Regions from separate parts of the Homo sapiens genome. Here region 1 is linked to region 2. Evidence: fine-mapped expression QTL. A gene starts in region 2. The other region holds a variant in brackets. All regions are shown on one strand. Distances are between the middles of the regions. Region 1 has its middle 22 kb from the start of CD200R1L-AS1. Region 2 holds the start of GTPBP8 (GTP binding protein 8).

The links. PIP is the estimated chance that this variant, and not a neighbour inherited with it, causes the effect.
Region 1: its variant is fine-mapped to the expression of GTPBP8 in nasal epithelium (TOPMed, PIP above 0.99).

Annotation. Positions count from the first base shown.
Region 1 is chr3:112,778,832-112,781,755 of GRCh38, forward strand. No RefSeq gene overlaps it. Among named protein-coding and RNA genes, the nearest start is that of CD200R1L-AS1, 22 kb to the right of the region's middle. The variant C/T (reference allele first, on the strand shown) is at 1,279.
Region 2 is chr3:112,989,815-112,992,738 of GRCh38, forward strand. GTPBP8 (GTP binding protein 8) reads left to right here and starts at 1,170. Exons shown (of 6, transcript NM_014170.4): 1 at 1,170-1,521. The coding sequence starts at 1,186. RefSeq lists enhancers at 712-1,339, 1,218-1,427.

The DNA.
Region 1 (2,924 bases), 210 kb before region 2:
CAGTTATCCTCTCTATGACCTATGAAAATAGCAATGTTTTCTTTAATCATCAGCATAGAGATTACTGAAGACTTTGTCTACAATTTTAAAAAACATAATTCAGCACTAAAATAATATAACAGAATTGGATTATCTTAGATTTTAATCTCTAAACACAAATTCCAGATTATGTCAAAACATATAAGTATTCCTGAGTTACTATTAGGGTCATAGAAGAAAACATATTTCTAATAGGTTCTAGGAAAGTGATGAAAATGAGGTAGTATTCCATAAATAGAGGAAAATGTAAATTGGGGTAACAGTAAGGCTTTGGATTTAAGTGACAATTGCTCCTGACCTTCTCAAAGAATGATTACCCACAAGCTCAGGCTACCCTGCTTAAAATTCTGCAAGTCAAGCTGGTTTATTCAGGATACAGCAGGTAGGATGTATCTGAGGAATCTCACTCTGAACTTATTGTGGCTACTGGTTAGGATAGGAATAGGGTGAAAGATGAGGCCTGGCTCATTTGGAGTTAATGGTGAAATATAAGAGGAAAGGGATGGAGTTAATGGTGAAATATAAGAGGAAAAGGATGGAAATATATTAAAAGCTGGTGAAATATAAGAGGAAAGGGATGGATATTCAAGCAAAAGGTCAGCAACACTTTGGTCTTTGCAACCAAGCAATTATCTTTATATAGCACCCCCTTCTTGGGAAAAAGAAACTGTGTTCAAAAGATCAAAATTTTAAATCAGAAGAATTACATGGTTAAGCATGAAATTAGTGTGAAGTCAATGATTAGAAATTCTTCAAGTATATTTTTATTTTACAGTAGCATATCTATTTTAAAAGCTATTTAATTCAGAAATGTTTAGATAAGGGATATGTTGATGGAAACTAATCAAACTTTAAAATTGCTGGTGCAAGCAGATTTATTTTCTTAAATCTTGAATGATTTTGCTGTTAACATGTTCTTTTCAGCAGTCCGGAACAAAATAAGTATATAAATTCTAACTTCAAATAACATAATTATTACTCTTTGAAAGCTAGAAAAACTGAATCAAGAAAACTTTCATGGCTTTTCCCTAGAGCCAGGAAAAGTGGAAGGTTCCCTAACTATGAGAAAGGCCAGCCTGACCTTTTCTGTGAGAAATAGAACCATGCAGATAGTAGTCAGATGAGGCTTCAGCTTCCAAGAGCCCTACCCTGAGTGTCCTATTTTAAATTGAGAACACTCCACCCTGAAACTTCCCATCCCAACCACTTTACTCTGTTTTTTTCCATAGCACTTACTTC[C/T]TTCTAATATGCTATTTACTTTTTATTGTCTGTCTCGGTTCACCAGAATGTAAGCTCTACAGAGGTTAAGGATTTTTTTTGCCAGTTTTGTTCGCTGATGTATCTCACCTTCCTAGAACAATGCCTGGTACATAGTAGATACTGAATTTGTCCTTATGTAATCAAAACTGGGAGACAATAGACTAAAGAAGGAAGTTCAGAGTATTAAGGACAAGTGCTAGTGATTCAAACTAAGTTATGAACAAATAGTGAAATATCTAACAGGGAGGGGCCAACAGTTAAAATTCAGTGAGGACCAGGATACCAAGCTGCTCAGAAGCTTTAAAGTCCAAAGTAAGTCAGCAAAGATTGAAAGTCCAGAAGACATTTAATTCTTTGGCAGACACTTTAGCTACCTACTCACTCTCCACTTCCCACTTTTACTCACCATCTGAAACCTTTATTTTGGTTATAATAACATTGTGCACCACTTCAGATGGGGATAAATGGACTAAGCCAATTATGACCATTCTTTTCCCCGTTTCTCAGCTGCTCAGTCCAGGCCAGTGAGAACTAAATAGAAGTCAACTGGGCACATTCTGGAAAATAGAAATTAGTTTTGCTGGTAAATGGAGACATAAATGATTGGCATAGCCTTTCCCTCTTCTTCCTACCTTGCGCATGGACATTAGAGCTGGAGCTGTCCCAGCCACCTCAGGTGCTCAGGGAAAGACCAAGAGAATTCTCTTTATTTAATTCACTGTACAGGTTATTTACCTGCTTGTTCCAAAATTTATTTTGGACCCTTACCTATAAATAAAATTTCCAAACTCCCTTGCCAACTGCCTCCAGCTAGATATGGTCATTGGCAGCACTAGGAGGAAATTGAGGAATAAGAGGAATGGAGAAGCCAGGGGATTTATCTTCCCTTCCTCTGCTTCCAGCAGTATCTCCAGTGTTGACATGGTCTTCTCCATAATCCCAGCCAATGCCAATGGGCCCTTTTCCATGGTCCCAGCTCCCACCAAGCAGCCATCTTACACATGTTACACATCCAGCTCCAGGTGACTCTGACTTCCAAGCTCTGGTACACACTATCTCCTTTCTTTGTCCCTTCAGTCCTGTGGGTGGTAGTGGCTTCCTGCTGTTACTAATCTTTAAGCTGCTAATCTTTAAGAAGCCCTATTTGGCTTCTCAGCTCTTCCAGTCTTTTTGTACCTCGTGCCCTGTATTAAATTATTTCTATTGGACACCTGGCACGAACTGAGCTTTCCTCTCTGGATCCTGATTTATACTACATCGTATTTGGCTTTTTCATTGCTTGACACAAACCACTCTTCAAATGGACTCAAACCTTAAGAAATAATTACAAATTCCTTATCTTGTGGACTGGTAGATTTTGTAAAGTCTATCCCCTTTTACAGGGTACTCATGGCCTCAGTGGGTAAGGAGAGAGTAAAGACAGCAAGTTGGTGTGGTTATATACGTGTGGATACATATACACACACATACATTTACATATATATACATATATAATCACATGGTTATATATGTCTTTACTATCTCCTTACCCACTGTGGTCATGAGCACCCTCTAAAAGCCATGGCTGCTCCCTGCCTGGGAGATTCCAAAATTTGACTCTTCCATGTTATACTTAGAACATATTT
Region 2 (2,924 bases):
TCTTAACTCCACCGCCTGTCCCAAAACCTATAAGAACTAATGATAATCCCACCACCTTTGCTGACTCTCTTTTGGGACTCAGCCCACCTGCACCCAGGTGAAATAAACAGCCTTGTTGCTCACACAAAGACTGTTTGGTGATCTCTTCACATGGATGAGTGAAACACACACTAATGAGAATCCCAAATTTCTGATGTATACAACAGAGTATTATACACACTTTTATACATGGAGGAGAGAGAATAGCGAACAGAAAGGCACCCCAAACCCTAATGCAAAGAGCAATAAAAAATTAGCCAGCCAGCAGCACATCAGGCTGCCGTATTGGCTGCCCTCAAAGTCGCAGGTTCTGTTCATTAATTTTTGTATCATATTTATTCAAGAATTGTACTGTTTAATTACTGAACAACCTGGGGAATAGCTCAAGAAACCATGAGTTACCCTTTCTGGGCTGCTGATGTTTTAGAAAACCTAGTTTTTTTAACATATGAATATTTTTCAGTTATTCATTTCATCATTATGATACCTGTATCTCCCATTTCAGTACTGATCGACTTTAGGGAGAAACTTTTGAAATAAGATGATATTACGAAACGTCCACGAAACAATTCTGTAACATCTGTGCAAAACTGTTTTTATAAGAAATCTCTAAAATTTAATGACATTTCCTGCACCTATAGTGAAGGCGGAAATACAAACAGTCCCTTCCACGAAAACGAGGTGCTATTACAATCACATTTCTCATCAGCCCTTTTCTTTTTTGCAAAAGTGTTTATCCTAGTGCTGCGGACTTACGACAAACGTCAACAGTTAATAAGATAACCAAAAACTGTGAAAATCAAACGTTCCTGGAATGCATCGGAGCTTCACACTTTAGTCCTTCGCTTGAGACTCAAAGGCCACATGGCCAGATAGGTCTTTCACCTCTGCAAACCGTTAAACATCCTTCCAGTAAGACATAATCGTTAAGCCCACGGTGTTAAAGAAACCCAGTGAGCTGTTCCCCGCAGGTCACCGCCTGCCTCCACCCTCCTCCCGCGCACTGAAGGCAAAACACTTAGACCGGAACGAGCGAGGCCAGAGGAGACAACAACTCCCAGCAGGCGTCGCGGCAGCGGGAAGTCACGCACGCGCAACCCAGGCCACAGGAGTAAAATCTCTCTGCCCGTCTTCTGGGAAGGGAGAATGGCGGCGCCCGGGCTGCGGCTGGGAGCGGGAAGACTCTTTGAAATGCCTGCGGTGCTAGAGCGACTGAGCCGCTATAATAGCACGTCCCAAGCTTTTGCTGAGGTGCTGCGGCTGCCGAAGCAGCAGCTGAGGAAGCTGCTGTACCCGCTGCAGGAAGTAGAGCGGTTCCTCGCCCCCTACGGGAGGCAAGACCTTCACCTGCGTATCTTTGACCCAAGCCCGGAGGACATAGCCAGGGCGGACAACATCTTCACGGCCACTGAACGGAACCGCATCGACTACGTCAGCTCCGCCGTCCGTATCGACCACGCCCCGGACCTTCCGCGGCCAGAGGTGAGAGGCGATTCTCACGGTTCACCTGCGCGCCGGCGTCACAGCGCTAACCGCTTCCCTGGCCGTCCGGCTCGCGGGTGATTTTGCGGTTGTATTTTCTAGCTTTATGTTGGCGCATATATTATTTTAACTCAATAGGCATATGTCGATGCTCCCTGTACGTGGGGATACCCGAGAAACCCATTGTTAAGTACAAAATGCAGTCAATACCCATAAACCCATGGTAAAGTCAAAAATCGTTAAGTCGACCCACTGTAAGCAGAGACTGCCTGTATACAGCTTAAATTATTTTGGAATGAATATAGAAGACTTCAAAATGCTTTAAAAGCTTTTCAAACCCAAATTAAGCATTCAAAAAATTAACTCTCCTTTTTTCTTCTATTTAACTTAAGTAGGGAAAACATGCCAGACAAATTAGACAGAATTTAGACAGTGAAGAATAGGAAACGAATAATAGTTTCACAAATGAGATGGTCCTTATCAATAAGTAACTTTCGCCTAATCTAAATTTCCTATCGTGCAAAAATAATAATCTCTAGATGGCAATAATGTGGAAAAATTTTTATAACAACGTTTATTAGTGAAATTTCATGAGTGAGCATTCTTGCATGTCCTACAATTTATTGATATTCTGTTCTAAGTCTGCTAAAAGGCATCTCAACTCTCCATATGTATTTACACTAAGTGCACCATTGCCCAGAGATATTTCGTCTAAATATATGTGGAACTATAGTCAGGATTCAAAGAGTACCTCAATTATTTAATGATTTTGAGACAGCCATTGCTTTTTTATTTAAGCTTCTAAATTACTGGACTTTTTTGTAATTCGTTTTTAAAATTCAGTTTTATCTACATATTAGCATTAGATTTGCTCTGGCAGAGCATTTAAAATTTTTGCAGGACTCAGATCAATTAATTTTGAAGAACTGACCAGAATTTTCCAGGATAGGATCCCTGGCCCCTGCCCACTAAATGTCCCCCAATTGTCTTGATAACCAAAAATGCCCTTAAAATCTCCAAAATGTCCCTCAAGGGGCAGTACGGCCGTCATTTAGAACAACTGATTGGCATTGTACCCCCTCCCCCAATACCATGTTCAAAAGCAGAGCCATGTGTATTAATGGTTATTATCGAGAATATTCTGTTGTTTTCCACACTACAGAGGAGACAAGCTTAATTGGAACAAGAGAGGTCAAGGGAAAAGAGTAAGTTTTTAAATTGCAGTGGTGTTACAGTATACCATGGGAGTGCTTGAGAAAATGTGCTTCCAAACATGTAGTTGTACTTTTCATCTAGTTCTGTTGAACTACATCTAGTTTTTACTCTAAAAAGCTTTGTAAATATGAAATGCTTAATAAAAGTTGCATATATTCTTGAGTAGCGTAGTGAAACTAAAAGCACAG